2 separate regions of the Homo sapiens genome follow, and region 2 is linked to region 1. The links come from fine-mapping of genetic effects on gene expression. A gene starts in region 1. The other region holds a variant in brackets. All regions are shown on one strand. Distances are from middle to middle. Region 1 holds the start of NPAS1 (neuronal PAS domain protein 1). Region 2 has its middle 5.5 kb from the start of TMEM160.

What was found. PIP is the estimated chance that this variant, and not a neighbour inherited with it, causes the effect. A credible set is the group of variants that fine-mapping cannot tell apart.
Region 2: its variant is the best candidate, but not a certain one, in a credible set for the expression of NPAS1 in visceral fat (GTEx, PIP 0.52).

The regions. Positions count from the first base shown.
Region 1 is chr19:47,017,751-47,022,125 of GRCh38, forward strand. NPAS1 (neuronal PAS domain protein 1) reads left to right here and starts at 2,087. Exons shown (of 12, transcript NM_002517.4): 1 at 2,087-2,247; 2 at 3,256-3,419; 3 at 3,862-4,097. The coding sequence starts at 3,298. RefSeq lists a silencer at 2,024-2,083.
Region 2 is chr19:47,051,912-47,056,286 of GRCh38, forward strand. No RefSeq gene overlaps it. Among named protein-coding and RNA genes, the nearest start is that of TMEM160, 5.5 kb to the left of the region's middle. RefSeq lists an enhancer at 2,582-3,138. The variant C/G (reference allele first, on the strand shown) is at 1,929.

The DNA of each region.
Region 1 (4,375 bases):
CCTGGGCAACATAGCAAGACCCTCTCTCTACAAAACTTTTTTTTTTTTTTTGAGACGGAGTCTCGCTCTGTCTGCCAGGCTGGAGTATAGTGGCGTGATCTCAGCTCACTGCAACCTCCGCCTCCCAGGTTCAAGCGATTCTCCAGCCTCAGCCTCCTGAGTAGCTGGGACTACAGGTGCACGCCACTGTGTCCAGCTAATTTTTGTATTTTTAGTAGAGATGGGGTTTCACCATGTTGGCCAGGCTGGTCTTGAACTCCTGACGTCAGGTGATCCACCCGCCTCAGCCTCCCAAAGTGCTGGGATTACAGGCATGAGCCACTGCGCCCGGCCAACAAAACATTTTTAAAAAATAGCTGGGTGGGGTGGTGCATACCTGTAGTCCCAGCCACTTAGGAGGCTAGGTGGGAGAATCTCTTGAGCCTGGGAGTTCAAGGCTGCAGTGAGTAGTGATCATGCAGCCTGGGTGACAGAGCGAGAAGACTGTGTCTCAAAAATAATTAATTAATTAATTAATGGCACAAGTGTACCTCTCATGGCTGGCATAGCACCTGCCCAGGCTGCACAGCCAGGAAGTGCTGTCAGGAGACAGGAGCCCATGATCTGAGCTTGATTCCTTGCCCTGAAACTCTAGCAAGTCTCTCTGGGGATAAATAAGGATCTGTTGTCTGAGAGGCCACTATCACCAGGCTATATCACTTCCCCATGTCTCGGTTTCCCTAGTTGTAAAATGCATCTAGTAACAGAGCCCATCTCAGAATCTTGCTATAAAATAAAGTATTAGCAAAAAACAAGCACTCCCTTAAGTGTTAACTATGAGGATCATGAATGAGTTTGTGTGTTGTGAGCAAATGCACACGGGTGTTTGTGTGTGCCTCAGTTTCCCCATCTGCCCAACCAAAGGCCAGCGCGTGCTCCCTGCAAGCCCCTGACTGTATGCCTCTTCTAAGACTCCCTGCTCCATTTTCTTTTTCTTTTCTTTTCTTTCGAAATGGACTCTCCTTCTCTGACCCGGGCTGGAGCGCAGTGGCGGGATCTCGGCTCACTGCAACCTCCGCCTCCCAGGTTCAAGGGATTTTCCTGCCTCAGCCTCCCGAGTAGCTGGGATTACAGGCGCCCACCACCACACCCGGCTAATTTTTGTATTTTTAGTAGAGACAGGGTTTCACTATGTTGGCCAGGCTGGCCTTGAACTCCTGACCTCGGGTGATCCAACCGCCCTGGCCTCCCAAGGTGCTGGGATTATAGGTGTAAGCCACCGCGCCCGGCCCCAGCTCCATTTTCTTTCCCCATGTTAAGGTCATGTAGAGGCTTTTAAGTGCCTGGAGACCCCCATGCCAGGGAGGACCCTGAGAACGGGAAGTGGGGGCTGCATGGAGAGAAGGAGCTAGGGGAACTGTAGGACCTCCTATCAGACTGGGGAAGGCCTGGCTTGGACGCCTGGGTTCCCGTCCTCTGTGCGAGGTACTACAACCCCTGAGTTCCCATTTATGATCTAATGGGGAGCTTGGATGTAAGGGTTCCCGTCCCTGCGGCGGGGGATGGAGATAAGACGCCAGGATCCTGGTCTCTGGAGCTCCTTAGAGAGCTGGATCCTGGTCCCTGACGAGGGAGGTGTATGTCCCCCTTTTAAGGCGGGTTGGGTTTGGATGCGAAGTCCCAGCCCTGTGGGGGGAGAGTGTGCTGACACTCAGGAGTTCTCTCCCGGAAAGGGAGGGTCTCGAATTCTGGATTTGTGTCCCTGGAGGAAGCACTGACGTGAGTCTTCACTCGTACATGGGGCTCGGCTGCAGGGTACCTGTCTTGTCCCGAGGGGCTGCTGGGGCACTAACTGCCTCCTGAAGGGGTGTAGACAGTGCCCGGACTCCGCTGTTCCCCTTTTGGAGTGGGGTAGCTCCGATCCGAGGTGCTACATTCTGACCCCCGACGTTACCGTGGGGCAAGGGAACTCGGACCCCAGGGTAGCTTGGCCCCCTACCAGGGAAAGGCGAGCAGGGCGGGTCCGGGGGCGGAGACGCGGCGGGCGGGGCTCCGGCAGACCCCGCCCCCGCCCGCAGCGCTGGTCGCGCGTCTCCAAGTCTGCGAGGCCGAGGTGGGCGCCGAGAGCTGGGCGCCACAGCCCGCGCGTCCCGCTGCGCCCCGCGCGCCCCGGGGTCTATGGAGCTGCCCCTCCGCGCCGCCCGGCCGGCCCCACGCCGCGCCCGGAGCCTGCTCTGCGGCCAAGTAATCGGACTGGCGGTCCTGCGGGTAGGGGAAGCTTGCGGGCTGGCAGGAGGGGGACTTCTGGGTCCCAGAGGAATGGGGGGCTGGAACTCCAGTGTCCTGGGGGATAGGGGGTGGGACGAGGGTATCCCGAGCCTGGGGGAAGGGGCGCACGGATGTTTGAGTCCTGGAGAAATCTGGGGTTGGGAGACCTGGACACGGGGGTCTGGGGCATCTGGACACCTGGCTGGGAGGTTTGGGGGCGGCCTGGTTCCTGGGGTTAGGGGGTGTTCTGAACGCCTGGTCCTGGAGGAATGAAGACCTAACTGAAAACGTTAGGGGATCAGGAGACCAGGACACCTGGGCCCCGAGTGTCGGGTCAATCCTGGGGGCGTCCTGGGGCAGAGGCTGCGGCGGCTGCGTCCGGGGCTGGGGCTCGCGCGCCGGGGTCTTCAGGGAGGAAGTTGTGGTCGTGGGGATGTGGCGGTCCGAACACGTGGCGCCATCCCGAGAGGCTGGGGGGATCCCTGGGCAGGACACAGGATGGGGGTCCCTGCCCTCTGCCCCCTGCCTCCTTAGCCCAGCCGGGAAAACAGGGTGCAGATCCGGGGAGTCAGACACCGGGGATGGGCTTGGGGGGCGGGTCCTCGGGGCAGAGGGCTCCGGGGGCTGGGGCGTGCGTGCCTGGCCCGGGAGGCGCCCGCCCCCCGCCCGGCTTGGGCATGCTTGGCACGCAGCGCGCGGGCCGGTTCGATCCGTATGCGCGCCGCGTGCGCCCATTGGTATGCGGGAGCCGGCCCGGCGCGGGCGTGAGGCGGGCGCGCTGGCGGGCGGCGCGGGGGAGGCGGCGGCGGGGCACGTCCTCACCCGGAGCGCCAGCCCCGGGCCGGCTAGGGTGGGAGCTGAGGCCTCCAGGTAGGGGAAACTGAGGCATCATCCAGGCCCCCCCCCCCCCAGCTCCTTGCTGGGACCCTGAGCCCTGCACGGATCTCAGTTTCCCTAGAAGGTCTCCCGAGGGCACTAAGCGTTGCCCCTGGCCCCCTCCCGCTGCAGGAGACTCGGGGCTCGGAGCCCGCCTGAGCGAGCCCCCCGGAGATGGCGGCCCCCTATCCCGGCAGTGGCGGCGGAAGCGAGGTCAAATGCGTGGGAGGCCGCGGCGCCAGCGTCCCCTGGGACTTTCTACCCGGGCTGATGGTCAAGGCGCCGTCCGGACCGTGGTGAGCAAAGCCCCGCCCCCCTGGCCGCGGGCCCCCCCCCGGGTCCAATTCACACCCGATGTTCTGTCCCCGTGCCAAGGGGCAGTTCACACCCAGCTCCCTGACCCGCCCCTTAGGGCTAGAAGGTCTTACCTTGAGTTAACTACCGTCCTGAGCCCGGTCCCCTGCGTTCTGCTTCTAGTCCCGGTCCTCAGAATTCACGCCCAACATCTTTAATCTCTCGCCCTTCCTCCTCCTTCCCACCAGAATTGACACTCGAGGTTCTGTCCCTGGGTCGGAGTGTAAAATCCACACTCCGGTCTGCTCCCACCTCCAGAGATGTGGAATCCACTCCCAACGTCCCGTCCCGTTCCCAAGGCCCCGGGAGGCGGGGCTCGCCCCCAGTTCCCAAGCCCCTGAGCCCCGGGGCCCCGCCGACACCTCCTCCGCGCCGCCCGCCCAGCCTGCAGGCGCAGCGCAAGGAGAAGTCCCGGAACGCGGCGCGCTCGCGGCGCGGGAAGGAGAACCTGGAGTTCTTCGAGCTGGCCAAGCTTCTCCCGCTGCCCGGCGCCATCTCCAGCCAGCTGGACAAGGCTTCCATCGTGCGCCTCAGCGTCACCTACCTCCGCCTGCGCCGGTTCGCCGCGCTGGGGGCGCCGCCCTGGGGGCTGAGAGCCGCGGGGCCGCCAGCTGGCCTCGGTGAGTGCTCATGCGCGGGGCGAGGGTCCCGGGGCCCTCCAGGCGGAGTCACTGCAGCCCAGATCCGGGCTGCGGGCCTGCCCTCGCCCAGATGCTTGTCTCTGGAGTCAGCCAGGACCTTTGCGTGTCCCTATCAGGTGGCTTCTGCTCTCCAAGCCTCAGTTTATTAAACTGTCAAATGGGCGCAAGAGGTTGGGAAGATTTCGTGAATTCTGCCCTAAACAAGGCCCTGGCAGTTCTAGTGGTCACTGGTAAATGCTATTCCTATATTTTTATTA
Region 2 (4,375 bases), 34 kb after region 1:
AGACATGAGGGCTAGGCTAAAACAGTAAGGTCAAGTTGTTTGGACAGAAAGGCTACAGGGTGCGGTCCTGGCTCTTGTGTAAGAATTCTGACCACACTAACCATGCCTAGGAAGGAAAGGAGTTGTTTTGTAAGGGATTGAGGTTTGGGAGATTAATTGGACACGATCAGCAGGGAGAGCACGTGTGTTTTTATGAAGAATTATGCTGAGATAGGTAACAGATGAGGATGAAATTTGGGCTTGACTGAAGTAATGGGGGCTGTCTGTGAAGCCTTGCGGCAGTACAGCCCAGGTAATTTGCTGAGCCTAATGGGTGTCAGGGTCAGTCCAAGTGAAAGCGAAGAGAGGCTGGGATGACGGGTGCAAAGGAATAGTAAAGAAAGCATGTTTGAGATCCAGAACAGAATAATGGGTTGTGGAGGGAGGTATTGAGGATAGGAGAGTATATGGGTTTGGCACCATGGGGTGGATAGGCAAAACAATTTGGTTGATAAGGCACAGATCCTGAACTAACTTGTAAGGCTTGTCTGGTTTTAGGACAGGTAAAATGGGGGAATTGTAAGGAGAGTTTATAGGCTTAAAAGGCCTTACCCATTGAGCAGGGTAAGGGTGATTAGGTTTTAATGAGATGGTAAGGGGTGCATGATCGGTTGCCAAGGAAGGAGTAGAGGTATCTTATACTTGTGGGTTAAGGTGGGGGAATACAAGAGGAGGACGCAAAGGAGGCTTTGGATTGGGAAGAAGGGCAGCAATGAGATGTAGCTGTAATCCAGGAATAGTCAGGGAAGCAGATGATTTAGTTAAAGTGTCTCGGCCTAATAAGGGAACTGGGCAGGTGGAGATAACTAAAAGGAGTGCTTTAAAGAGTATCGTCTAAGTTGGCACCAGAGTTGGGGAGTTTTAAGAGGTTTAGAAGCCTGGCTGTCAATACCCACAACAGTTATGGAAGCAAGGGAAACAGGCCCTTGAAAAGAAGGTAATGTGGAGTGGGTAGCCTCTGTATTGATTAAGGGGACGGACTTATCTTCCACTGTGATAGTTACTCGAAGCTCGGCGTCTGTGATGGTCTACGGGGCTTTCGAGGTGATCGGGCAGCGTCAGTCTTCAGCCGCCAAGCCGAGAAGGAGTCAGTCGGAGAGCCTTGGGCCAGAGTTCCAGGGGCTCTGGGAGTGGCTGCCAGGTGAGTTGAACAGTCCGATTTTCAGTGGGGTCCCACACAGATGGGACGCGGCCTAGGAGGAATCCCAGGCTGCGGGCATTCCTTGGCCCAGTGGCCAAGATTTCCAGCATGTGTAGCAAGTTCCTGGGGGAGGAGGTTCTGGAGGAACGCCTGGCTGCTGCGGTTCGGGCGTTTGGAAGTTCTTGCGTGCTGGAGATGTGGCTGGGGTTTGTCTCACAGTGGAGGCAAGGAATTGCAACTTTTTTTCTGTTATTGTACACCTTGAAGGCGAGGTTAATTAAGTCCTGTTGTGGGGTTTGAGAGCCAGATTCCAATTTTTGGAGTTTTATTTAATGTCAGGAGCAGATTGGGTAATAAAATGTATATTGAGAATAAGACGGCCTTTTGACCTTTTAGGGTCTAGGGCTATAAAGCGTCTCAGGGTTGCTGTCAAACGAGCCATGTACTGGGCTGGATTTTTATATTTGAAGAAAAAGAGCCTAAACGCCATCTGATTTGGGATAAAGAAAAAGGAGCATTAACCTTGACTATGCCTTTAGCTCCAGCCACCTTTTTAAGAATAAATTGCTGCGCAGGTGGGGAAGGGCTAGTCACGGAACGAAACTGTAAACCATACCGGGTGTGAGGAGGGGAGGTGATGAAACGATTATAGGGTGGAGGAGCGGAGGCTGAGGAAGAATTGGGACCTAGCTTGGCCTGGCGAGGAGGGGAGAGGTCAGTTGGGTCTGTAGAAAAGGAAGATTAGAAA[C/G]ACTCAGCAACGCTTGGGGTTGGGACTGAGGGGACAGGTGGGAGGGAAAGAAGGAAGATTTGGGACGAGTTGCATTGGGCACAGAGACTAGGAAGGGACTGTGATGTGTAAAAGAATGCCTGGACGTCAGGCACCTCAGACCATTTGCCTATTTTATGACAAGAATTATTTAGATCTTGCAGGATGGAAAAATTCAAAGTGCCATTTTCTGGCTATTTGGAACTACTATCGAGTTTGTATTGGGGTCAAGCAGCATTGCAGAAGAAAATAAGGCGTTTAGGTTTTAGGTCAGGTGTGAGTTGAAGAGGTTTTAAGTTCTTGAGAAGACAGGCTAAGGGAGAAGGAGGAATGGAGGGTGGAAGTTTGCCCATAGTAAAGGAGGCAAACCCAGAGAAAAGAGAGCGTAGAGACACGGAGGGAAGGGGTTCAGGGTTCTTACCCTCCAGAAAAGCAGGAAGCGGGGTCGGGGCATGGAAATAAGGGATTGGGGCACAGAGATAAGAGGTTGGGGTGCGGAAATAAGGGATTGGGGGTTCTTGACCCCTAGAAAAGCGGGACTTGCCACTAAGGGTGAAGGAGAAGGGGTTGATGGGTACTTGTCCCTTCCCCAGAAAAGCAGAGAAGGGGTAGAGACACAGAGAAGGGGTTGGGGAACTTGCCCCTCCCCCAGAAAAGCGGGACTTGCCACCAAGGATGAAGGACCAAGGCAGGCGTCCCTGCGTGGTCTGACACCTTTGAAACGTGGGTGAATAATCAGAGAGGCGTCCTTGCAATGATTAAACACCAAGGGAAGGCTGCCTTCCCAGTCCGTGACCGGCGCCAGAGTTTTGGGTCCACAGATAAAACGTGTCTCCTTTGTCTCTACCAGAAAACAAAAGGAATAGAAATTAAGAGAAGGGAGAGATTGAAGTGTGGCGCCAAGATTGAAAGGAGAAAGAGGTTGAGAGATAGTGAGGGAGGTTGGAAAAGAGTAAAAAGAGGCCGCTTACCGGATTTGAAATTGGTGAGTTGTTTCTTGGGCTGGTCTGTCTGAGGACCTGAGGTCGTAGGTGGATCTTTCTCACAGAGCAAAGAGCAGGAGGATGGGGGATTGATCTCCCAAGGGAGGTCGGTCCCCCGATCCGAGTCACGGCACCAAATTTCATGCGCGTCCGTGTGAAGAGACCACCAAACAGGCTTTGTGTGAGCAACATGGCTGTTTATTTCACCTGGCTGCAGGCAGGCTGAGTCCGAAAAGAGAGTCAGCAAAGGGTGGTGGATTATCATTAGTTCTGAGAGGTTTTGGGATAGGCGGTGAAGTTAAGAACAATGTTTTGCGGGCAGGGGTGGATCTCACACAGTACATTCTCAAGGGTGGGGAGAATTACAAAGAACCTTCTTAAGGGTGGGGGAGATTACAAAGTACATTGATCAGTTAGGTGGGGCAGGAAGAAATCACAATGGTGGAATGTCATCAGTTAAGGCTATTTTTACTTCTTTTGTGGATCTTCAGTTACTTCAGGCCATCTGGATGTATACCTGCAAGTCTCAGGTGATGCGATGGCTTGGCTTGGGCTCAGAGGCCTGACAATTTGAACCTGGGAGGCTGAGGTTGCAATGAGCTGAGATAGTGCCACTGCACTGCACTCCAGACTGGGCGACAGAGTGAGACTCCATCTTTTTTTTTTTTTTTTTTTTTTTGAGACGGAATTTCGCTCTGTCGCCCAGGCTGGAGTGCAGTGGCACAGTCTCGGCTCACTGCAAGCTCCGCCTCCCGGGTTCACGCCATTCTCCTGCCTCAGCCTCCCGAGTAGCTGGGACTACAGGCACCCGCCACCACACCCAGCTAAATTTTTTTTGTATTTTCACTAGAGATGGGGTTTCACCGTGTTAGCCAGGATGGTCTCGATCTCCTGAGCTCGTGATCCGCCCGCCTCAGCCTCCCAAAGTGCTGGGATTACAGGCGTGAGCCACCATGCCCGGCCGAGACTGCATCTTAAAAAAAAAAAAAATGGCCGGGCGCAGTGGCTCACGCCTATAATCCCAGCACTCTAGGAGGCCTAGGCGGGCAAATCACCAGGTCAGGAGATCGAGACCATCCTGGCTAACATGGTGAAACCCCGTCTCTACTAAAAAATACAAAAAAAATTAGCCGGGCGTGGTGGTGGGCGCCTGTAGTCCCAGCTACTCAGGAGGTTGAGGCAGGAGAATGGCATGAACCCGGGAGGTGGAGCTTGCAGTGAGCCTAGTTCACGCCACTGCACTCCAGCCTGGGTGACAGAGTGAGACTCTGTCTCAAAAAAAGAAAAAAAAAAAAACGGCTGGGAGCAGTGGCTCACGCCTGTAATCCCAGCACTTTGGGAGGCCGAGGTGGGCGGATCACCAGGTCAGGAGATCGAGACCATCCTGGCTAACGCGGTGAAACCCCGTCTCTACTAAAAATACAAAAAATTAGCCGGGCATGGTGG